2 separate regions of the Homo sapiens genome follow, and region 1 is linked to region 2. The links come from fine-mapping of genetic effects on gene expression. A gene starts in region 2. The other region holds a variant in brackets. All regions are shown on one strand. Distances are from middle to middle. Region 1 holds the start of TM4SF5 (transmembrane 4 L six family member 5). Region 2 holds the start of ZMYND15 (zinc finger MYND-type containing 15).

The links. PIP is the estimated chance that this variant, and not a neighbour inherited with it, causes the effect.
Region 1: its variant is fine-mapped to the expression of ZMYND15 in macrophages (Nedelec 2016, PIP 0.95).

Annotation. Positions count from the first base shown.
Region 1 is chr17:4,761,650-4,778,032 of GRCh38, forward strand. It overlaps TM4SF5 (transmembrane 4 L six family member 5), which reads left to right and starts at 10,237. Exons shown (of 5, transcript NM_003963.3): 1 at 10,237-10,450. The coding sequence starts at 10,274. RefSeq lists a silencer at 2,415-2,577. The variant A/G (reference allele first, on the strand shown) is at 8,079.
Region 2 is chr17:4,734,639-4,743,355 of GRCh38, forward strand. It overlaps ZMYND15 (zinc finger MYND-type containing 15), which reads left to right and starts at 5,195. Exons shown (of 14, transcript NM_001136046.3): 1 at 5,195-5,412; 2 at 5,881-6,502; 3 at 6,944-7,178; 4 at 7,277-7,432; 5 at 7,693-7,853; 6 at 8,665-8,717. The coding sequence starts at 5,911. CXCL16 (C-X-C motif chemokine ligand 16) reads right to left here and starts at 5,290. Exons shown (of 6, transcript NM_001386809.1): 1 at 4,623-5,290; 2 at 4,144-4,282; 3 at 3,770-3,852; 4 at 454-870; 5 at 1-14. The coding sequence starts at 4,701. RefSeq lists enhancers at 3,803-4,708, 4,709-5,613 and a silencer at 5,162-5,381.

The DNA.
Region 1 (16,383 bases), 31 kb after region 2:
CTGAGGTTTTAGTGAGCCAAGATCACACCACTGCTGTACTATAGCCTGCGTGACAGAGTAAGATTCTGTATCAAAAAAAAAATTTGAAATATGCTAAATATTTAACAAATAGGCCAAGCAGGTGGCTCACACCTGTAATCACAACACTTTGGGAGACCGAGGTGGGTGTATCACCTGAGGTCAGGAGTTCGAGACCAGCCTGACCAACACGATGAAACCCCATCTCTACTAAAAATACAAAAAATTAGCTGGGCTTGGTGATGCGCGCCTGTAATCCCAGCTACTTGGGAGGCTGAGGCAGGAGAATCACTTGAATTCGGGAGGTGGAGGTTGCAGTGAGCCCAGATTGCACCACTGCACTCCAGCCTGGGAGTGAGACTCTGTCTCAAAAAAAAAAAAAGAAAAGAAAAGAAATAAACGTCACTGACTCAATTTCACAGTATTCTCATAACCAATTTAAAGTCTAGAAACCACTGGAAAATTTTCCATTTTTCCCAGTTTATATCCTAGGAGAAAGCAAATCTAATTGGCCTGGACACTCAGCTTATGGTACAGTTTACAAATTTCTGGTAACTTCCACTGCTTTAAACGAAGACTGAAATTACCAATGTCTCAAATAGAGTAGAAGTTTATTTCTTGCTCACAAAATAGTAACGAGGCTGCCGGGCCCGGTGCTTCACGCCTGTAATCCCAGCACTTTTTGGGAGGCCGAGGGGAGTGGGTCATTTGAGGTCAGGAGTTCGAGACCAGCCTGGCCAACATGGTGAAACCCCGTCTCTACTAAAAATACACAAATTAGCCAGGTGTGGTGGTGCCCACCTGCAATCCCAGCTAGTTGGGAGGCTGAGGCAGGAGAATTGCTTGAACCCAGGAGGCAGAGATTGCAGTGAGCCAAGGTCGCACCACTGCACTCCAGCCTGGGCAACAGAGCGAGACTCCGTCTCACAAAATAAATAAATAAATAAATAGTAAGGAGGCAGGTGGCCCACAGCGGCACTCCTGCTCTTCTAGGTTGTTCGGGAGCCCAGAATCCTGATATTGTTGTTCCACCATCTCTAAGGGTTGTCCTCACCAAAGAGTCCAAACGGTTCAACTCCTGGCCTACATTCCAGCCAGCAGGATGAGGAAAGGGAAGCTCATTCCTTAAAGTCTACCACCAAAGTTGATTGTTGCAGCCATTAAAAAAGAACAAATTCATGTCCTTTGCAGCAATATGGATACAGCTGGAGGCCATTATTCTAAGCCAATTAACACACGAACTGAAAACCAAATATTGCATGTTCTCACTTACAAGTGGGAGCTAAGCACTGGGTGCACATGGACATAAGGATGTAAACAATTGACACTGGGGCCTCCAGAGGGGAAGGGAGAGAGTGGGGAAAGGGTTGAAAAAACTACTGGGTTCTGGCCGGGTGCGGTGGCTCATGCCTGTAATCCCAGCACTTTGGGAGGCTGAGGCGGGTGGATCACCTGAGGTCAGGAGTTTGAGACCAGCCTAGTCAACATGGTGAAACGCCATCTCTACTAAAAATACCAAAATTAGTCAGATGTGGTGGCATGCGCCTGTAATCTCAGCTACTTGGGAGGCTGAGGCAGGAGAATCGCTTGAACCCAGGAGGCCGAGGTTGCAGTGAGCCGAGATCGTGCCACTGCACTCCAGCCTGGGTGACAAAGTGAGACGCTGTCTCAAAAAAACAAAAAACCAAAAAAACTACTGGGTCCTATGCTCAGTACCTGGGTGACAGGATTAATCATGTTCCTAAACCTCAACATCACACAATATACCCTTATGACAAACCTGCACATGTACCCCCAAATCTAAAATAAAAGCTGAAATTATAAATAAATTGAATACTTTGTTGTGGGGATCTCATAAAACTTACAGAAAACATCTGCATTATGCCTTAAAACCAACATTGCAGTAAGGTAAGATCAACTAGCAGCATTCTCACAAAAAGGAAACAAAGTTGATCAAATCATTTACACTCCTTCCCATAAGCCATAACTATGTGACAACGCATGGCCACAGCTACAAAAGAAGTTAGAAAAAATAGGGTTTTTTTGTTGTTGTTGTTGTTTTGACACGGGGTCTCGCTCTGTCGCCCAGGCTAGAGTGCATGCAGTGGCATGATCTCAGCTCATTGCAACCTCCGCCTCCCAGGTTCAAGCGATTCTCCTGCCTCAGCCTCCGGAGTAGCTGGGATTACAGGCATGTGCCACTACGCCCGGCTAATTTTGTATTTTTATAGAGATGGGGTTTCTCCATATTGGTCAGGCTGGCCTCAAACTCCCAACCTCAGGTGATCCACCTGCCTTGGCCTCCCAAAGTGCTGGGATTACAGACGTGAGACACCACGCCTGGCTAATTTTTGTATTTTTAGTAGAGATGAGGTTTCACCATGTTGGCCAGGCTGGTCTCAAACTCCTGACCTCAGGTGATCCACCCGCCTCAGCCTCCCGAAGTGCTGGGATTACAGGCGTGAGCCACCGGGCTTGGCCGAAAATATAGTCTCTAGCTTAGCAGCCATGTGCCTTTAGCAGCAGACTACAAAGTCTGCTACTATAATAAAAGCAGAAGACTGGGACTAACTCACTATCTCTGTCACATACTAGGTCAAGCATGTGCTACTCAGCTATGGGCAGTGAGTACGGAGCCACAGAGTTTAGACAGATTCCCTGGAGAGGATATTCGCTGGATGCCTCCCCATCATTCATTCTGTCTTTCCTCCTTCCTAATACTGCCCTTAATTTCCCAGCCTGGTGGCTTAGACAGAATTGACAACACCCCCTGTGCTGGAATGCCTCCATGTGAAGAAGGACATGTTTGCTTCCCCTTCCGCCATGATTGTAAGTTTCCTAAGGCCTCCCCAGCCATGCTAAACTGTGAGTCAATTAAACCTCTTTCCTCTATAAAGTACCAGTCTCGGGTATGTCTTTATTAGCAGCGTGAGAACAGACTCATACAGCATGTTCTACCCTCTGGCCACAGTGATCCGTGTAAGGGACAGACATAGAACCCAGTCTGCACCAAGGAGAAATTTTCTGGGGTAAATGGGAAAGAAACTTCCTCTCTACTCAGGGAAAGCTATGCGAGGAGATTCTCTTCCTCCTGGTGGTAGGGTGTAAAGACATAAGGTCTGAACTGCTGCAGCTAATACTACTGTCAGGAGGAAGATCCCACTTAAGGAGGAAGTCAAAGCCAAAAAAAGGAACAGCAGAGAGAATGGCAGAGAAACAAGAACACTGATGACATCCTGAACTTCTGGACCAAACTGCACCTGCAGTTAGTCCTACTTCAGTCCTACTGGATGTTTTGATTGCTTGAACCAATAAATTCCCTTTTTGTTGCAATAGAGTTGGGTTTTCTGTTACCTGGTATAGTTCCTTACAATGGACCCAGAGTATGGCAAGCAATAATGACATATTTAATAGTATTAATATCATTTTTAGAATTTACATTATACAGCTGCCCTTTAAAAGAATTTTTTTTTTTTTTTTTTTTTTTGAGACAGAGTTTTGCTCTTGCCCAGGCTGGAGTGCAATGGCGCGATCTTGGCTCACTGCAATCTCCACCTCCCAGGTTCAAGCGATTCTCCTGCCTCAGCCTTCCCAAGTAGCTGGGATTACAGGCATGCGCTACCAAGTCCAGCTAATTTTGTATTTTTAGTAGAGATGGGGTTTCTCCATGTGGGTCCGGCTGGTCTCAAACTCCCGACCTCAGGTGAGCCGCCTACCTCGGCCTCCCAAAGTGCTGGGATTACAGGCGTGAGCCACCACGCCCGGCCACTTCAAAAGAAATTTTTACGGGGCTAGGTGCAGTGGCTCACGCCTGTAATCCCAACACTTTGGGAAGCCTATGTGTGCAGATTTCTTGAGCCCAGGAGTTCAAGACCACTTGGGCAACAAAATGAAACCCCATTTCTACAAAAAATACAAAATGATGGCTGGGCTCGGTGGCTCACACTTGTAATCCCAGCACTTTCGGAGGCCGAAGTGGGCGGATCACCTGAGGTCGGGAGTTTGAGACCAGCCTGACCAACATGGAGAAACCCTGTCTCTACTAAAAATACAAAATTAGCCGGGCGTGGTGGCACATGCCTGTAATCCTAGCTACTAGGGAGGCTGAGGCAGGAGAATCGCTTGAACCTGGGAGGCAGAAGTTGCAGTAAGCTGAGATTGCGCCATTGCACTCCAGCCTGGGCAACAAGAGTGAAACTCTGTCTCAAAAAAAATATATATATATATATTTACATATATACACACAAAAAGATTAGACAAGCATGGTGGGTGGTGAACATCTGTAGTCCCAGTTACTTGGCAGGCTGAGGCAGGACGATCACTTGAGCCCAGGAGATAGAGTTTGCAGTGAGCCAAGATCATGCCACTGCACACCAGTCTGGACAACAGAGTGAGACACTGTCTTTAAAAAAAAATGAGACTGGGCACAATGGCTCTGGCCGGGTTGTGGTGGCTCATACCTGTAATCCCAGCACTTTGGGAGGCCAAGACAGGTGGATCACTTGAGGTCAGGAGTTCAAGACCACCCTCCAACATGGTGAAACTTAGTCTCTACTAAAAATATAAAAATTAGCCAGGCCTGGTGGCCCATGCTTGTAATCCCAGCTACTTGGGGGGCTAAGGCAGGAGAATCGCTTGAACTCAGAAGGCTGAGGTTGCAGAGTCAAGATGACGCCACTGCACTCCAGCCTGCATGACAGAGCAAGACTCTGACTCAAAACAAAAGAGAAGAAAAATATTTTTTTCCAAAATGTGCATCCAGTTTTGTAACCAGATATATGAAATTTATTTAGACTTACGTCAAGACTTCCCCATTTTGGGGTTTTTATTTTACTTCATCTCTTGGTGAGTCAACACAATTTCTCTAAAAAAAAGGAGCCAAAGTGTTATTTTGAAATCCAAACATTCTCAGAAATGCAATTGTGTTGCCCTTAACATACAAAATGCAACTTAGACATGTATATGATAGTTCTACCTTTTTTGGTGGACACAGCTGCCTTACTCCTTTGTCCTCTGACATTCAGTATTTCAGAGAAGACTCTGGCCACACCAACTATTGTTTCTTTCTAAGTAGCCTTTTTAAATTCTGCCTAGATGTATCCTTTAATTCAGATATTTTGTCAGGATGAATCTATGGTCAGCTGACTTTTAATATTTTACCTGCCGTGCAGTATAACTTTCAACCCACTGACCTGAGTGGATCTATCTGCGCTCAGTGACGTCTTCTCCTAGTGCAGATGTTTTAACTGTGGTGTCACTTCCACCAGTTCTATTCTTGTTCTTAGGAGAAGCCAGTTTCCTGAATTTTTTTTTTTTTTTTTTTGAGCCAGAGTCTCACTCTGTCACCCAGGCTGAAGCGCAATGGCGTGATCTTGGCTCACTGCAATCTCCACCTCCCGGGTTCAAGCGATTCTCCTGCCTAAACCTCCTGAGTAGCGGGGATTACAGGCACCCGCCACCATGCCCAGCTAATTTTTGTATTTTTAGTAGAGACGGGGTTTCCCCATGTTGGTCAGGCTGGTCTCGAATTCCTGACCTCAGGTGATCTGCCCGCCTCGGCCTCCCAAAGTGCTGGGATTACAAGCGTGACCCACTGAGCCTGGACCTTTTTTTTTTTTTTTTTTTTGAGATGGAGTCTTGCTCTGTTGCCCATACTGGGGTGCAATGGTGCGATCTCGGCTCACTGCAACCCCCACCTCCCGGGTTCAAGCGATTCTCCTGCCTCAGCCTCCTGAGTAGCTGGGATTACAGGTGCCTGCCATCACACTTGTCTAATTTTTGTATTTTTTGTGAAGATGGGGTTTCGCCATGTTGGCCAGGCTGGTCTCAAACTCCTGACCTCAGGTGATTCACCGAGCTTGGCCTCCCAAAGTGCTGGGATTACAGGCGTGAGCCACCGCGCCCGGCCAGCCTTTTCTTTCTTAAGTTATTCTGTTCCTAGTTCCAGGAGAATTCTAGTGATGTCATCAAAAATCTTCCTGGAAATCTCTTCCAAATCCTATAGTAAATGTTCCTCCAGAGGATTCTGTTTCTTTCAGTCTTCAGGTTGATTTGCCCTTCCCTGGTTTTGAGAAAATTTTTCAGAATCCCTATAATGTTTTGTTAACATTATTAACATTATTTCATTCATCCAGAATTGTATAAAAATAATGTAATGAATGCCTGTGGACCACCCCACCCACACAACTATTTTTTTTCTCTTTATTCATCCTCAAAACAGACACCATTTGGCTGGCCGCAGTGGCTCACACCTGTAATCCCAGCATTTTGGGAGACCGAGGTGGGTGGATCACCTGAGATCAGGAGTTCGAGAGCAGCCTGGCCAACATGGAGAAACCCTGTCTTCATCTCCACAAAAAATACAAAAATGAGCCAAGCGTGGTGGCGGGCACCTGTAATCCCAACTACTTGAGTCTCCTGAACCCGGGAGGCGGAGGTGGCGGTGAGCCGAGATCACGCCACTGCACTGCAGCCTGGGCAATAAGAGTGAAACTCTGTTTAAAAAAAAATAAAAAAGAGGCACCATCTCTCAGAATCAGCTTGAGCAACTTGTAGACAAATAGGTGGCCAGCTCTTGGCCCTGCTCTCTGTCCATCAGATCAATGGCTGAATCCCCTCTTCAGGTCCACGGTTGGAAGGGCCACTATTCGGGATATGACAGTTGCTCTGGTAGTTCAACATTAGTGCTGGTGACAACCTCTCATCGGCCACCTCCTGAGGAACCAGAGTTTTCCAGTGCCTGTGCTTCTCCCTCTGGCGCTGTTTCAGAGTAACTATTCTCCATACACTTCTCTTGCTGTGACTTCTGCTTATTTCTGGTGTCAGTTGCCTCTGGCTTTTGATTGCTTCTTTCTTGCATACAACTCTCAGTTTGAAGCCACCCCACTCTCTGATGACTGTCTCAGCTTGTCTCACAGACACATTTCCCAATCATGAAGATCCAGTCGGTGGATTGGTCATTATCCAGTCAGTGTACCTCTGTTGGATGGAGTTCTCACCTCGAGAGACCTCACAGGTCGCTGGCTACATGTCTGCCTTTGGGTCAGCTACTTGTTCCTCAATCAACCAGCCCTGGCCTAGATAAGGGGGTCTGTGTTAGGAACTTGTTACTGGGCAACAAACCATCCCCCTCGACGAAGTCTTAGTGTCAAATAAATATAAGCATTTATTTCACTGATACACACATAGGAGTTGGCTGGGGGTCAGGTGATCTAGGGTGGGATCCAATGTGACCCTTTTCCTTGTATCTTTTTTTTTTTTTTCTAGATGGAGTCTTCCTCTGTCACCCAGGCTGGAGTCCAGTGGTGCAATCTCGGCTCACTGCAACCTCCATCTCCCGGGTTCAAGCAATTCTCCTGCCTCAGCCTCCCGACTAGCTGGGATTACAGGTGCCTGCCACCACACCCAGCTAATTTTTTTTGTATTTTTAGTAGAGACAGGGTTTCACCACGGTAGCCAGGATGGTCTCGATCTCCTGACCTCATGATCTGCCCACCTTGTCCTCCCAAAGTGCTGGGATTACAGGCGTGAGCTACTGCGCCCGGCCAAAAGAAATTTTTTAAATTAGTTGAGTGTGGTGGTGTGGGCCTGTAATCCTGGCTACTAAGGAAGCTGAAGTGGGAAGACAGCTTGAGCTAGGAGGTCATAGCTGCAGCGAGCCATGATTATCTTACCATGGCACTCTAGTCTGAGTGACAGAGACCCTGTCTCAAAAAAAAAAAAAAAAGGATAATGTAAAATCTTTAAAGAAAAGGGACAGAGGCTGGGCGCAGTGGTTCATGCCTGTAATCCCAGCGTTTTCGGAGGCCGAGGCGGGGATCATCTGAGGTCGGGAGTTCGAGACTAGCCTGGCCAACATGGAGAAACCCCGTCTCTACTAAAAATACAAAATTAGCTGGGCGTGGTGTCGCATGCCTATAATCCCAGCTACTCGGGAGGCTGAGGCAGGAGAATTGCTTGAACTTGGGAGGTGGAGGTTGCAGTGAGCCATGATCGCACCACTGCACTCCAGCCTGGGCAACAAGAGCAAAACTCTGTCTCAAAAAACAAAAAAGAAGAGG[A/G]ACAGAAAACATCAGAAGCAATATGGAAATGTTGTTTAAAGCATTAAACATGCCAACAGAAGCAAAACCAAATGTATCAGTCATCATAATTACCTATGAGTCAGAGACAAATAGTTGGGGAGGTTCAAAGTATTTTCTTTTTCAGGCATCCTCTGATTCAAGAGGTAAATTCTCCATGTATTTTTCTCAATCCAGTTCCTCTGTCTTATAAATAGCAGAGATTCTGGCTTTTCTCCATTTTCCACATTTCTGTAGTGGTCTGAGTGGGCCGCAAGGAGGGGCTGCATCAGGGGCCACTGGCTGGTGACACTTTCCAGGTGACAGCCTCATTGCATACCCTCTGAAGCCCTGCAGCCCTTCCTGCTACCCTCATCTCTTCATGGCACTCCCACATCCTACTTGAGCTAGGGCTCATTCTGTGGGGGCCTTCACTCTCCTGTTTGCTTCTGAGACCCAGGAGGCAGAGGTTGCAGTGAGCCGAGATCACACCACTAAACTCCAGCCTGGGTGACAGAGCAAGACTCCATCTCAAAAAAAAAACAACAAAAAACCATTAGCCAGGTGTGGTGGCACACACCTATAGTCCTAGCTACTCGGGAGGCTGAGGTGGGAGGATCACTTGAGCCCAGGTGGTCAGGGCTGCAGGGAGCCATGATCCACTCCACACCAGCCTGGGCAACAAAGGGAGACCCTGGTCTCAAAAACATTTTTTTAATTAAAAAAAAAAGAAGTCGACTGGGTGGCTTGGCTCATGCTTGTAATCCCAGCACTTTGGGAGGCTGAGGCAGGTGGATCATTTGAGGTGAGGAGTTTGAGACCAGCCTGGCCAACATGGTGAAACCCCGTCTCTACTAAAAATACAAAAATTAGCTGGGTGTGGTGGTGGGCGCCTGTAATCCCAGCTACTTGGGAGGCTGAGGCAGGAGAATCGCTTGAACCCAGGAGGCGGAGGTTGCAGTGAGCCAAGATCACGCCACTGCTCTCCAGCCTGGGCGGCAGAGTGAGACTCCGTCTCAAAAAAAAAAGAAGTTATCAAGGAAACTGCAGCACCCCAACAAAAACAGAACTTCTTTGACCTCAGAATGGAAAAATGGCAGAAGCTGATTCTCACAGAGTTGGCTCAGATCGCATGGCTGTTGCTAAATCAAACACCGAGGCTAGCAGGATAGAACGCTCTCATCAATGAGGCCTAGGTCCCGAGCCCACCCTGAGAGACAGGCAGTGGCCTCAAGAGGAGGAGACATCAATAATCAAATACCAGGAAGACGAAATGCAAGGACAATAAGAGCCCACAATCACCTCTTTAATTTCTCCCTGGGAAGAATGCTGCCTGAGAGGCTGGCAGAAACGAAGAGGCCACCACACATCTGCTCTGTGCTTCCTAGTTTACAAAATACTTCTCAGGTTGTCCCATTTAATCCTCACAAGTAGCCCACAAGGCAAGTGGCATCACTTATTTATTTATCTATTTATTTATTTATTTATTTATTTACTTTTTGAGACAGAGTTTCATTCTTGTCACTTTATTTACTTATTTATTTATTTTTCGAGACAGAGTTTCACTCTTGTCACCCAGGCTGGAGTGCAATGGCACAATCTCAGCTCACTGCAACCTCCACCTTCCAGGTTCAAGTGATCCTCCTGCTTCAGCCTCTCGAATAGCTGGGATTACAGGTGCCCGCCACCATGCACAGATAACTTTTGCATTTTTAGTAGTGACGGGGTTTCACCACGTTGGCCAGGCTGGTCTCAAACTCCTGACCTCAGGTGATCCACCCTCCTCGGCCTCCCAAAGTGCTGGGATTACAGGTGTGAGCCACCGTGCCCAGACACAAGTGGCAACTGAGACTTAAGAGACATGAAGGGGCTTGGCTAAGTTGCAAAGCAGGTATGGAACCAACAGAGGGGCTGTGGAGCTGTGCAGAAAAAACAGGAAGGCACTAACCCAGGGTAATGTGTCCATAGCCCCCACCTTGTCCAGCACCACATCCTCCCTTCACCTCAGGGCTGCAGCTCCTCCGCCTCTGCCTCCTCAGGGCCCACATCCTGTGCCTCTCTCCCTTATCATTCTGATCCTGCCAGTTTCTGCCACGCCTCTGTCTGAACTTTGCTCCGTGCTCCAGGCTTGTTTTCCTCTGGACCTGGGAACCACTGGCTTACTTTCACTCACCGCCTGTCCTTCCTGACACCTCACCATGTGTACGGGAAAATGTGCCCGCTGTGTGGGGCTCTCCCTCATTACCCTCTGCCTCGTCTGCATTGTGGCCAACGCCCTCCTGCTGGTACCTAATGGGGAGACCTCCTGGACCAACACCAACCATCTCAGCTTGCAAGTCTGGCTCATGGGCGGCTTCATTGGCGGGGGCCTAATGGTGAGAAGGCTGGCAGGGGAGCCCGGGCCAGCTGGCTGGGTGCCACCTAAGGGGTTCTGAACAGGAGGGAGAGGGAGAGAGGAATAAGAATGGTTGCTTGGGAGAGGATGGCAATGGCTTCGTGGGGGCTAGCAGCCCTCTGGAGTCAGTCCTGGAGGAGCCCCAGGGTCCCAAGCTGAATGTCTGTGGGGCACAGAAAGGACGAGAGCCTCACTGCTCTAAAGAGCTCCCCTACCGGGTAGGGAGCATGTCCTGCCTGTCCTCCCTGTCCCCACTGTTGAGCAGATGCTGGGAAAACCTCACTACAATGGTCGAGGCAGAAGGAGCAGCTGGTTGTCAGAGACGTCATCGGGGCAGGATAATAACAGGCATGAGGGTGGGGCGCAGTGAAATTACCCAGAGCCAGGGACTGCCCTCACGGATCAGTCACCCTCGCTTGCCTCCACGTCCATTCACTCTCACCCCACATTTCTGGAAGCCCAATCTGTGCGGACTGCTAAGGATAAACTCAGAACTTAGGTCAGTATGGCAGGGAGGATGCCCTCAAGTCGTCTTCCGGGAGATGAGAATCTATTTGCCAGGGGCGGAGGTGGGGGTTGGTTTTTGTGTTTGTTTTTTGTTTTTTTTTTTTTTTGAGACAGGGTCTCTCTCTGTTGCCCAGGCTGGAGTGTGGTGGTGCGAACATGGCTCACTGTAGCCCCAACCTCCTGGGCCCAAGCAGTCCTCCCACCTCAGCCTCCGAGCAGCTGGAACCACAGGTGGGCATCACCACACCCAGCTAACTTTTAAATATTTTATTTATTTTTATTATTATTATTTTTTTGAGACGGAGTCTCGCTCTGTCGCCCAGGCTGGAGTGCAGTGGCGCCATCTCCGTTCACTGCAACCTCTGTCTCCTGGGTTTAAGCAATTCTCCTGCCTCAGCCTCCTGAGTAGCTGGGATTACGGTCACGTGCCACCACACCCAGCTAATTTTTGCATTTTCAGTAGAGACAGGGTTTCGCCACGTTGGCTAGGCTGGTCTCGAACTCCTGACCTCAGGTGATCCGCCCCCCTCGGCCTCCCAAAGTGCTGGGATTACAGATGTGAGCCACCGCCCCAGCTTACATTTTTTGTAGAGACGGAGTATCTCTGTGTTGCCCAGACTGGTCTCAAACTCCTGGATTCAAGTGATCCTCCTGCCTCAGCCTCCCAAAGTGCTAGAATTATAGATGTGAGCCACCACGCCTGGCCAAGACTAGGATCTGTCAGAAGTGGAGGAAAAGGAGACACAGATTTCCCCAATTTACTAACCCCCATCTTCCAACTCTCCACCCATTCAGGGAAACTTTGGGATGGTCAACCTCGTTTAATATCTTCATGCGATAAAGACAAAAGATCTACCCAGCACAGTTCCCCACTTCTCAGGACAGTTGGCTAATGACATTCTCCAGGGGAGAGCTCCCCTTGGTCCCTTTTGCTGGTCACACCTCGCTGGTCACACCTCTATTTGCTAAAAGAGGATACCTCTCCTTTAACCAACAATCCCCTCTTACTCTCTAGTATCTTTTCTTCTACTCCCTCCTCCTGCATGGATTCTTGGCTGCTGTACTCTACTCTATCGCTCTAAACTCAACTCTCTTTGAGAGTCACACTCCTCTCAGGCTGACACACTTAGCCATTGTCACGGGGTGCTCCCTCTGCAACCTGAACCACCCCTGTCTCCCCACACTCCTCTGCCCCATCTAACCAGCTTGCTTCAGCGGAGCTCCCTGAGTCTGCCTTCCCCAAATATGCATTCACAGCTGCCTTCCCTCCACCTCTGTGCCCAGAGTCACTCTCAAGAAGCACCACCCGGTGGGCATGGTGGCTTACGCCTGTAATCCCAACACTTTGGGAGGCCGAGGCGGGCCAATCACCTGAGGTCAGGAGTTCAAGACCAGCCTGGCCAACATGGTGAAACCCCGTCTCTACTTAAAGAAATATACAAAAATTAGCCAGGCATAGTGGCGGGCGCCTGTAATCCCAGCTACTCGGGAGACTGAGGCAGGAGAACCCGGGAGGCAGAGGTTGCAGTGAGGCGAGATTGCGCCATTGTGCTCCAGCCTGGGCGACAGAGCAAGACTCCATCTCATACATAAATAAACAAATAAATAAGCACTGCTGTATATCACAGGGACACAGACAGGTTCCTGCTCTCCCTGAAGCTTGTGTTCCCTTTGGTAAGGCCACCAGTCTCACGGAAGCAAGGCTGGAAGTCCCACGAGAGCAAGCACTGCCTGCTTTGTTGGCCACTATGTACCCAGTGCTAGACCAGCACCTTGCACTAAACAGACACCCAATTAATAGTCATGGAATGGCAGCGTGTGCCTGTAGTCCTAGTTTGGGCCCAGAAATGAAAGATTGCAGTGAGCTATGACCACGCGCCACTGCACTCCAGCCTGGGCAACAGAGCAAGACCTTGTCTCAAGAAAATAAAAAATAAAAAAGTCATTGAATGAAGTATAGAACTAGGCAAGGCAATTTCAGATAGAAGTAGGTACCATCGGCCGGGCGCAGTGGCTCATGCCTGTAATCCCAGCACTTTGGGAGGCTGAGGCAGGCGGATCACCGAGGTCAGGAGTTCACGACCAGCCTGACCAACATGCAGAAATCCTGTCTCTACTAAAAATACAAAAATTAGCCAGGCGTGGTGGCGCATGCCTGTAGTCCCAGCTACTCAGGAAGCTGAGGCAGGAGAATTGCTTGAACCCGAGAGGCGGAGGTTGCAGTGAACCAAGATTGCACCATTGTACTCCAGCCTGGGCAACAAGAGTGAAACTCTGTCTCAAAAGTAAAAAATAAAAATAAAATGAAATGGTGCTGGCATGAAGAGCTCCTAGGCAAAGCAGATGCCACTTTTTATAGGATTTTCAGGGACAGGCTCTATGAGGTGATGTCTGAACTGAGACCCAAATGACAAGAAGAAGGTGTGAGTGTTGCAGACACTAGGGGCTGGTAGTACAAAGCCTAAGGTGGGAACAAGCTCTACACTTCTGAGGATCAGACAGGTGGCCGGTGAGGTGAGATGTAATGAGATGAGGTCTGAGGAGGGCAGAGGCTAGGCCTGGAACACCCTGAAAAGCCACAGTGGAGTCATTTGAATTTTTATTATTATAAGTACAACAGAAAACTATTGAAGGACTTTTTTTTTTTTTTGAGACGGAATCTCACTGTGTCGCCCGGGCTGCAGTGCAGTGGTGCGATCTCGGTTCACTACAAGCTCCACCTCTTGGGTTCACGCCATTCTCCTGCCTCAGCCTCCCGAGTAGCTGGGACTACAGGCGCCCGCCACCACGCACAGCAAATTTTTTTTTTTTGTATTTTTAGTAGAGATGGGGTTTCACCGTGTTAGCCAGGATGGTCTCGATCTCCTGACCTTGTGATCCACCCGCCTCGGCCTCCTAAAGTGCTGGGATTACAGGAGTGAGCCACCGCGCCATGCCCTATTGAAGGACTTTTGGCACTTTGTTTTTTGACGGTTTAAAACTTTTTATTTAAGTCACACAGACAAGTACCCAGATCCTTAGTACACAGCTCAACAAACTTTTACAAAGTGAGCACATCTGAGCCCAGGTCAAGAAACAGATCATTACCAGAAGCCCAGACATGCTTCTCACCACACACGGAACCCCAGAATCACTTCACCAACAAGCGTAACCACTATTCTGTCTTCTAACCCCATAGACGAGTTTGGCTTATTTTGCACTTTACACAAATGGAATGATAGAGTATGTGTCTGGCTTTTTTTTGAGACGGAGCTGTTGCCCAGGCTGGAGTGCAGTGGCGCTATCTCAGCTCACTGCAACCTCCGCCTCCCAGGTTCAAATGATTCTCATGCCTCAGCCTCCAGAGTAGCTGGGGTTACAGGCATGAGCCACCACGCCTGGCTAATTTTTGTATTTACTTTAGTAGAGATGGGGGTTTCGCCATGTTGGTCAGGCTGGTCTCGCACTCCCGACCTCAGGTGATCCACCCACCTCGGCCTCCCCAAGTGCTGGGATTACGAGCGTGAGCCACCGCGCCTGGCCTGTGTCTGGCTTCTTTAGCTCCATATTACGTTTGTGAGAGCCACCCATATTATCAGGTGTAGCTGTAGTTTTCTTTTTTTCTTATACATTCTATTATGTGACTATACCTCATTTATACATTCTACTGTTTGTTTGTTTGTTTTTTTGCTTTTTTGCTTTTTTGTTTTTTTTGAAACAGAGTCTCGCTCTGTCACCCAGGCTGGAGTACAATGGCGCCATCTCGGCTCACTGCAACCTCTGACTCCCAGGTTCACATGATTCTCCTGCCTCAGCCTCCTGAGTAGCTGGGATTACAGGCATGTGCCACCGTGCCCAGTTAATTTTTGTATTTTTAGTAGAGACGGGGTTTCGCGATATTGGTCAGGCTGGTTTTGAACTCCCAACCTTAGGTGATCCGCCTGCCTCGGCCTCCCAGAGTACTGGGATTACAGGCATAAGCCACTGTGCCCGGCCCATTCTACTGTTGAAGGAGATCTGGATCATTCCCAGTTTGGTTTTTTTGCAAATAATGCTGCTATAAATATTCTTGTAGATGTATTTAGGTACAAATACGTGTGCATTTCTATTGGATAAAAACCTAGCAGTAAAACTGCTGATTCTTAAGACATGCAAGTATTCAGCGCTAATAGATATTGCCAGTTTTCTGTAGTTCTTAGTGTGAGAGGTCTGGTTGCTCCACACGCCACTGGAATGAAGAAGACTCCTTTGACCACTGTGTGGAGAATGGGTAGTAGAAGGTCTGCAATATATACAGAAAAAGACCAAACTGAGCTGGGCGTGGGGCCTCAAGCCTGTAATCCCAGCACTTTTGGAGGCCGAGGCCAGCGGATCATGAGGTCAGGAGTTCGAGACCAGCCTGACCAACATGGCGAAACCCCGTCTCTACTAAAAATACAAAGTTAGCAGGGCATGGTGGTGCATGCCTGTAATCCCAGCTACTCGGAAGGCTGAGGCAGGAGAATCTCCTGAACCCAGCAGACAGAGGTTACAGTGAGCCGAGATCATGCCACTGCAATCCAGCCTGGGTGACAGAGCAAGACTCCATCTCAAAAAAAAAAAAAAAGAAAAAGAAAAGACCAAACTGAGGTCACGGAAGACATCCAGGAGAGATGAGAGTGGCTTGGACTAGGCCAGTGGCTATGGAAATGGAGAAATATGAGCTGATTCAGGCTATAAGCACAGTGTTTTCTTCTTCATTTATGATGACACTTTTCACTAAGACAAAAAGATGGTGAAGAATGAGACAGAGAAGCACATACTACAAAGGGAAGCAAACACTTTAATCAAAAGAGTAAAAATCTCAAATAGGGCCAGGTGTGGTGGCTCATGCCTGTAAAATCCCAACACTTTGGGAGGTGGAGGCAGGAGAATCGCTTGAGTCCCAGCATTCAAGACCAGCCTGGGCAACATAGTGAGACTCTATCTCAACAAAAATTTTAAAATTAGCTGGGTCTGGCCAGGTGCGGTGGCTCACACCTGTAATCCCAGCACTTTGGGAGGCCGAAGCAGGCTGATCAGCTGAGGTCAGGAGTTTGAGACCAGCCTGACCAACATGGAGAAACTTTGTCTCTACTAAAAATACAAAGTTAGCAGGGCGTGGTGGCGCATGCATGTAATCCCAGCTACTCGGGAGGCTGAGGCAGGAGAATCACCTGAACACGGGAGGCAGAGGTTACAGCGAGCCAAGATCGCGCCATTGCACTCCAGCCTGGGCAACAAGAGCAAAACTTCGTCTCAAAAAAGAAAAAATTAGCTGAGTGTGGTGGTACAAGCCTGTAATCCCAGCTACTCTAATGCTAAGGTGAGAGGATCACTTGAGCCCAGGAGGTCGAGGCTGCAGTGAGCCATGATCATGCCACTGCACTCCAGTCTGGGCAACAGTGT
Region 2 (8,717 bases):
ATGAACCGGCAGATCTGGAAAGGATAAAGAAATTGAGAGATGAGCTCTGAGATCAAGGACAGTGTTTGGGGGATGATAGCTTGAACTAGGGAATCAGATGAAGACATCAACACTATGACCTGGCCCACAGTAGGTGCTCAGTGAAAATTTGTGAATTGAATGACTGGCCCTCACCTCCCTCCACAGCTTCATCTCCCACTAGCTTGCTCTAGCCATCTTCTCCATGATGTTGCTCCAAGCACTAGTCCTTGTGCCTGTGGTGGCTTCCTTCCCTCTCCACTGTCTACAGTCCCCGACTGACTGTCCTCAGAGGGCCCAGAGTCAACCTTGTGCAGACAACCTTGATACTTGTGTGCCAAGGCCAGGTTTCCAGCCACCTGAGAGCCACTGGGTCAGGATGCCTGTCAGGAAGGCTCTGGGTCCCTGGGGGGAGGGTTCAAAGGTCCAGTTTACCTGGAGAGGACTGCGGTGACTGCCCCCTCCTCCTCTTGCACAGCACATAGGAAAGGGCTGCGGTGAGGATGAAGATGATGGCCAGGAGGCACAGGACTGGCACTGTGGCTGATGTCCTGGCTGTGGGACCAGCATTTTTTTCCGGCTGCTTCTGGTTCTCCCCAGCCTCAGGCCCAGCTGCCAGACTGTGGCCCGCAGTGTGAATGGTGGTTTCATTGGGACGAGTGAGCTCTTTGTCCGAGGACAGTGATCCTACTGGGAGGGTGGGGCGCTGAGTGGACTGCAAGGTGGACAGGAGCATCTGGGCAGGGGTGTGGATATCTGAAGATGCCCCCTCTGAGGCCTGAGAAATTGGGGGGCTGGTAGGAAGTAAATGCTTCTGGTGGGCCACAATCCCCGAGTAAGCATGTCCACATTCTGGAAAGGAAAGAAATGAGGAATCAGGACTATCAGGAGACAAGGTGAAAAAGCAGATAGAGGTGTAGGGGAGAAAAAGTAATATCTTTTCCTCACCCATCGCAAGGGTCAAGGCTGATACCCCTATAAATAAAAAACATTAACAAGAGAAAAGCCTAACATTTATTTAATCACAGTTTTACATGACATAGGAACCTTCAGAAACAAAGACCCGAGAAAAGTGCATTTTTATGCTTAGGCTTGCTGTGAAGAATGGACAGCTGTATAGACGTATGATTGGATTGGCCGGGCGCGGTGGTTCACGCCTGTAATCCCAGCACTTTGGGAGGCTGAGGTGGGTGGATCACCTGAGGTCGGGAGTTCGAGACCAGTCTGACCAACATGGAGAAACCCAGTCTCTACTAAAAATACAAAATTAGCCAGGCATGGTGTCATGTGCCTGTAATCCCAGCTACATGGGAGGCTGAGGCAGAATCGCCTGAACCCAGGAGGTGGAGGTTGCAGTGAGCCAAGATTGCACAACTGCATTCCAGCCTGGGCAACAAGAGCGAAACTCCATCTCAAAAAAAAAAAAGAAGTATGATTGGACAAAAAGGGTATGATCTAATGGCAATAAATGGGGGGTGGGGGACCAGCAAGGCCTGTCCAGATTCTTCTTGGCCTCCAAGTATAGGGCAGGACCCATCTGAAATGAGAGCCTATGACCTACTTCCACGTGAAGTTAGAGAATTCCTTTATGGCCAGCTCTCACAGAAAAACAGAGCAGAGTGAGCTACTTACTTCTGCTGTTTTCGTAATTACCAAGGTGCCATGTTTTGGAGTGTCATGTTCTGAGCTCCAACAGAGGGAAGAGTGAGTCAGGGAGGTTATCACGCTGAAGGCCAGAAGAGGAAGGCAGATGACAGACGGAAAAGGTAGGGGACAAGGAAGTGAGCGAACCACGAGACAAGTGGGTGTCATGAACTGGGAAATCAGAAGACCAGGGTTGGATTCCAAGCTCTGCTGTAAAGTAGCTGTGTAACCTCAAGTAGCTGTGTAACCTCACCCCTTGTCCCTAACCTCTCCGGAAGTGATATCTTCCAGCTGTAAAATGAGGATAATTGTAGTACCAAGGGCCAGGGTTCCTGGGAGGATGAAAGGAAATCATAGAGGTCTAGGCAGACTTAAAGGCAGTATGGATGACACAGATCCTACAAAACTTTAGCTAGGACATGGAAGAACCTTTTGTATTTTAATGGTTGTATATTTATTTTAAGAGAAAAATATAACCAATGCATCAAACTTGTGACTTCACAGATATTATTGCTTAGGATAATTTACTATTTAAGTTTTCTTTCTTTTTTTTTGTTGCCCAGGCTGGAGTGCAATGGCCTGATCTCGGCTCACTGCAACCTCCGCCTCCAGGTTCAAGTGATTCTCCTGCCTCAACCTCCTGAGTAGCTGGAATTACAGGCACATGCCACCATGCCTGGCTAATTTTGTATTTTTAGTAGAGATGGGGTTTTACCATGTTGGTCAGGCTGGTCTCAAACTCCTGACCTCAGGTGATCCACCGGCCTCAACCTCCCAAAGAGCTAGGATTACAGGAGTGAGCCACCGTCCTGGCCTCTACTTAAGTTTTCAAAACTAGTTTGTGCACACTTAAAAGTAATTCATTTCATTGTATGTAAATTTGAACTCAAAAGAAAAAAAAGCATTAAAATATTGAACTCTACTTAATATACATGCTGAAATGTCTTGGGATGAAGTGCAATGATGTCCACAATCTGCCTTGAAATGCATCAAGAGGCCGGGCACTGCGGTTCACACCTGTAATCCCAGCACTTTGGGAGGCTGAGGCAGGTGGATCACCTGAGGTCAGGAGTTTGAGACCAGCCTGACCAACACGGTGAAACCCCATCTCTACTAAAAAAATACAAAAATTAGCTGGGCATGGTGGCGGGCACCTGCAATCCCAGCTACTCGGAAGGCTGTGGCAGGAGAATTGCTTGAACCTGGGAGGCGGAGGCTGCAGTGAGCTGAGGGCACCATTGCACTCCAGCCTGGGCGACAGAGCAAGACTCCATTAAAAAAAAAAAAAAAAAAAAAAAAGAAATGCATCAAGAAATAAGGTGATGGATGATGGATAGAAGAATGAATAGATGGATACTTAATAAAGCAAATATCGTGTAATTGCTGTAAAATTGATAGTGTAAAATATATGTTTATGTAAATATGTAAAATATACATATATAAATAAAATTGTAGAATCTAGGTGGAGGCACTGGATATTCAGTGTGCCATTCTTTCAACTTTTGTATATGTGTAAATTTTCATAATAAAATATTGGAAAAGAAAAATAGGCCAGGTGTGGTGGCTCACGCCTGTAATCCTAGCACTTTTGGAGGCCGAGGCGGGTGGATCACAAGGCCAGGAGTTCGAGACCAGCCTGGCCAACATGGTGAAACCCTGTCTCTACTAAAAATACAAAAATTAGCCAGGCTTGGTGGTGCGCGCCTGTAATCCCAGCTACTCAGGAGGCTGAGGCAGGAGAATCTCTTGAACCTGGGAGGCAGAGGTTGCAGTGAGCCAAGATCGTGCCACTGCACTCCAGCCTGGGTGACAGAGTGAGACTCCATCTCAAAAAAATAAAATAAAATAGTACTTTGATTTCAAGAAAAATATTAATAAGTAGACAATAGCACACGTGGTAGAATGAATTGGCAAAACTCATGAAGGTGATGGTGAATGATCACCCCGTTTGGCAAACAGGGACTCGAGTCTAAGTACTTTGGACAGGATCAGAAGAAGGTTCTAGGAATGTGCGGCCCCAGGGGAAAAGGCTCAGGTAAAGAAAACTGTCAGGTGGAAGCTGCTAAGCCCTGGAGGCAGAGCCTGAAGAGCAGTGGAAAAGTCTCACCTTTGAGATCAAGACAGCTCATCAATTCCTGAACCCATGGGTCCTTGTTGCCCCCACACACGCTCCAGGAAAGGAGCTGGAACCTGCGGAGGAGAGACCTGGGCTTAGCTGCGGCGCCTTCTTTCCTTCCCCGGCTCCTTCCTCATTCCAGAGGCGTGAAGTTGCCACCAAGAAAGAGCCCTTTCTCCTGGGACTGGGAAACTCCCCAGTAGGTGAGACGGAGTCATGAAGTTTCGGGGAATGAGAGCAAACGGAACCCGGAGATGGGGCTCGGTGAGCCGGGAAGGAGTTCAGGCTGGACCAGAGAGGGTCCTGGAGGCACCTGCAAGGAGGGGCCGCCCAGGCGCTGCCCTCGCAGAGGCAGGTAAAATTACCTCGTGTAGTATAGACACCGATGGTAAGCTCTCAGGTGTTTCCGGAGACGATTCATGAACTGAACCGATGGCGGGGAGTCGGAAGAAATTCTTTTACCACAATAACAACTTCCAGTGACGCTGCCCTCGTTGCCATTGCCTGCGCGGGACGGAGGTGGTCGGCACCCATTCCCAGGCCCAGGGTCCCCACTCCGCTGTTCCCTGGCATCCAATCCACAGCCCCATGACAGCCTCTCGGTGGACCCAGGGTCAGAGCGCCAGGCTCAACCCACACATCATCACGCCCCCGACAACATCCATAATCCCGCCCGGAGCCAGGCGTCCCCGGGCCTCTGTCCCCAACCCCAGGCGGCTGGCTGGCTTTCCTCTTGTCCCCGCTGCCTTCATCCACTCAACTCCGTGGGCCTCGTGTCCCCTCCCCAACTCACCCCCTTCCCGTGACAGGGGAATCTGGGTCCCCTGCCCCGCCCCCGGCTAACCTGGCTGAGTCAGGTACACCAGCAGGAGCAGAAGCAGGAGCAGGAGCACGCGGGACCCGGGCCGCAAGTCCCGTCCCATCTCGGGGCTCCGCGGACTCTGCGGGGATGGAGCCACCTCGCTCTGACTCCCAGACATGCTCCGGCGCGTGACGTCCAGCTGGTGTCTCAATGGCTTTCGCCGGGGACCGGAGGAGACGGCGGCCGGAGAGGAGGCGCGAGCCAGCTGCACCCCCCGGCCCTGCTGTGCCCCGACCGTGCGCTCAGTACTCGGCCCGCGCCATGCCAGCCTCTGGACGCAGGGAAAGCCGAGGAGGTGGAGCTCCCGCGCCCTGCGCCCCCGCACTGGGCCCGGCTCCGTCGAGGGAAGGCCAGGAATCTTGGAAGAAACCGAAAGAAAACTCCGGCGGCGGGCGAGGAGGGGCGGGAGGACGACGGCCCGAGGAGCCGATTCGGTTCGGTTCAGGAGGCCGCCCGCCTGGCCCGTCCGCCGACCTGTGAGGCGGCTGCACTGCCGGACCGGCCCTCCTCCTCCGAGGCACTTTCACTTCCCCGATCCGGGCGCCGCGGGACCCAGCCGCGCTGCATGAGCCTCCCGGGCGGCCCGGTGGAGAGAGTCGCCGCCAGCCCCGGCCGCGCGCACCTGCGGGGCAGCCACCCGCGGACGCACCGAGCCCGGGGGGCGTGGCCGCCCGCTGAGCCGGCGAGGGCTCGGGCAGCCCTGACGTCACAACCGCACCCGCGCACCCTCCACCGCGAGGTATTTACCTTCGAAAAGTGGTGGCGGCTGCAGGTACCGGAGGAGTGGGGCGGCCGGGAGGGGCTAGGTCTACCGGGGCTGCCCGCCACGCAGATCCGAGCCCAGGGAACCCCCTCGCTCCCACTCCCATACCCCACAGACGCATCCAAAATGCTTCCCTCCCCACCAAACCGTTCCCGATAGGATTAGCCCTCTCTCCTCTCTAGCCTTAATTTAAACTCTGCTTTTGAGGGTGTGAACTCTCCAATTTTAAGCCCCAAATACCATCTCATCCCTGAGTAGTCTTCTCCAACCCTGGTCACCCACTTTCAAGTCCAGCCCCCATTTTCCTCCCTAAACTCCCATCCTCAGCCCTGAAAAATCCTCTTCTCCGCTCCTAGCATATCCACGGATCCAACCCTAAGTGACTCTCAAACCTACCCTCTCCCTCAATTTGTGACCCAGCCCCAAACTCCATCATTGCTCTCCTGTCCCTCACCATATATCCCTTCTTTTGCTCAGTCTGGGCCGGGGCCCTGTGCCGCTGAAGACATGGAGTTTGTGTCTGGATACCGGGATGAGTTCCTTGATTTCACTGCCCTTCTCTTCGGCTGGTTCCGAAAGTTTGTGGCAGAGCGTGGAGCTGTAGGGACTAGCCTTGAGGGCCGCTGCCGGCAGCTGGAGGCCCAGATCAGAAGGCTACCCCAGGACCCTGCCCTTTGGGTGCTCCATGTCCTGCCCAACCATAGTGTGGGCATCAGCCTGGGGCAAGGGGCAGAACCAGGTCCTGGACCAGGCCTGGGGACTGCCTGGCTCCTGGGAGACAACCCTCCACTCCACCTGCGAGACCTGAGCCCCTACATCAGCTTTGTCAGCCTAGAGGATGGGGAGGAAGGGGAGGAGGAAGAGGAGGAAGATGAAGAAGAAGAGAAGAGAGAGGACGGGGGTGCAGGCAGCACAGAGAAGGTGGAACCAGAGGAGGACCGGGAGCTAGCCCCTACCAGCAGGGAGTCCCCCCAGGAAACAAACCCTCCAGGAGAGTCAGAGGAGGCTGCCCGGGAGGCAGGAGGTGGCAAGGATGGCTGCCGAGAGGACAGGGTGGAGAACGAAACAAGACCCCAGAAGAGGAAGGGACAGAGGAGTGGTAAGAACCCAGGGCTGGCCCTGCCCTACCCCTTGCCCAGCCATCCTCCCTTCGGAAGCCCTCCCCTGCCACTAGTTCTGAGTGCTGGCCTTCAGGCCAATCTGGCCTGAAAAGGTGTTTTTATTGACCCACAGTGGGGTTTTTTTTTTTAATTTAATGTTTAAACATTGCAAGAAAAAAAGTATCCAGAAGTCTGGATTTACACATTCCCAAGAAAAATCTCAAGCTCTGACAGTGGGCCTACATTTCTGCATGGCAGCGCATTCTGGTCCTCTGTAGCAGCTGTCCCCTTTAGAAGGAGCGTGCCCTCTCTACCCAGAGCCCTTTACTCAGTGAGGTTACTTGCCTAGCCCCGTAGGTATTTGAGTTTGGTACTCCTGACCCTGACCACATTTGTCTCTCGCTGCCCCCTACCACCTCAACTTTTCCCTCTTTCCCCAGAGGCTGCCCCCCTGCACGTTTCCTGTCTCTTACTTGTGACGGATGAGCATGGCACCATCTTGGGCATTGATCTGCTAGTGGATGGAGCCCAGGGAACCGCAAGCTGGGGCTCAGGGACCAAGGACCTGGCTCCTTGGGCCTATGCTCTCCTCTGTCACAGCATGGCCTGTCCCATGGGCTCTGGGGATCCCCGAAAGCCCCGACAGCTTACTGTGGGAGATGCCCGGCTGCATCGGTATAGAAATCTGGTATCTGAGGCTGGGGAGGACTCGGGCCCTGGATTCCCAAGCACCTCCTCCAGCCTGATGCCATCTCCCCCCCAACTGCATTTAGAGAGCTGGAGAGCTTGGTCCCAAGGCTAGGTGTGAAGTTAGCCAAAACCCCAATGCGGACATGGGGTCCCCGGCCAGGCTTCACCTTTGCTTCCCTTCGTGCTCGAACCTGCCATGTGTGTCACAGGCACAGCTTTGAAGCGAAGCTGACACCTTGGTGAGCAGCCCCAAAGCTGGGGGAGAGGAAGACCCCAATAGGCAAATAGAAGGAAGGCAGGGTGGTGGGGGGCGCCTAGCAGACAGAAGGAGAGGCAGGGACATGAGAAGATGCAGAGGAAACAATACAGACTGTTACAGGCGGTTAGAGGGTGTAAGACAAACAGACCGAGTGACATATGGGCAGCTGCTGGGCAGTTGAACAGCAGACAGGACCTACAGAGGTTAACACTAGGTGCCCACCACCCGCTGTGTCCCCAGCCCCCAGTGTAGTGCTGTCTTGTATTGTGGAGAGGCTTGTCTCCGGGCTGACTGGCAGCGGTGCCCAGATGATGTGAGTCACCGATTTTGGTGCCCAAGGCTTGCAGCCTTCATGGAGCGGGCAGGAGAACTGGCAACCCTGCCTTTTACCTACACCGCAGGTACCATAAGGAGGTCAGAATGGTTGGGGGAAACTGGGACCAGGTCTTTGAGACTGGGAATTAGATGTCTGGGAACAGGGTCCTGCAGTTGAAGGCTGAGTGTCTGGGGCTAGAGCCTAGATCCCTGGAACAAGGGCAGGGGCTGGGTGTTTGGGGCTGGAGACAGGGTCTCTGAAGCCGAGGCCTGAGTGTCTGGGTCCCTGAGAGCGTGCAGGGATTGGGGGACAGGGATTCAAACACTTACTTGCTTCCCAGCTCCACCACTAACTGCAGTGTGACCTTAAACAAACCACTTTACTTCTTGAAGCTTCCGTGTCCTCATGAGGGATACGGAGAAGGCCCATGGAATTGTTACAAGGATTATCTTGGCTTGGTGCCTGGTACGCTGGAGGCACTCAGAAATGGTAGTTCCCGGCCTGACTGGAACCAGACTTAGAACCAGGGTCCTCGCGGGAGGCTAGGGAGAGTTCAAGGCTGGGGTTCTAGGCCGGGCAATGGTTCACACCCGTAATCCCAGCACTTTGGGAGGCCAACTTGAGCCCAGGAATTTGAGATCAGCCTGGGCAACATAGACTCTGTCTCTACAAAAAATAGAAAAAATTAGTCAGGCATGGTGCACTCGCTTGTGGTCACAATTCTCGGGAGACTGAGGTGGGAGAATCGTTTGAGTCCAAGAGGTCGAGGCTGTAGTGTCCCGTGATCACGCCACTGCACTCTAGCTTGGGTGATAGAGCAAGACTCTGTCTCAAAAAAAAAAAAATGTCTGGGGTTCTAGCCCAGCACCTCAACTCCTCCCCTTCTCCTTCTCCAGAGGTGACCAGTGAAACCTTCAACAAAGAGGCCTTCCTGGCCTCTCGGGGCCTC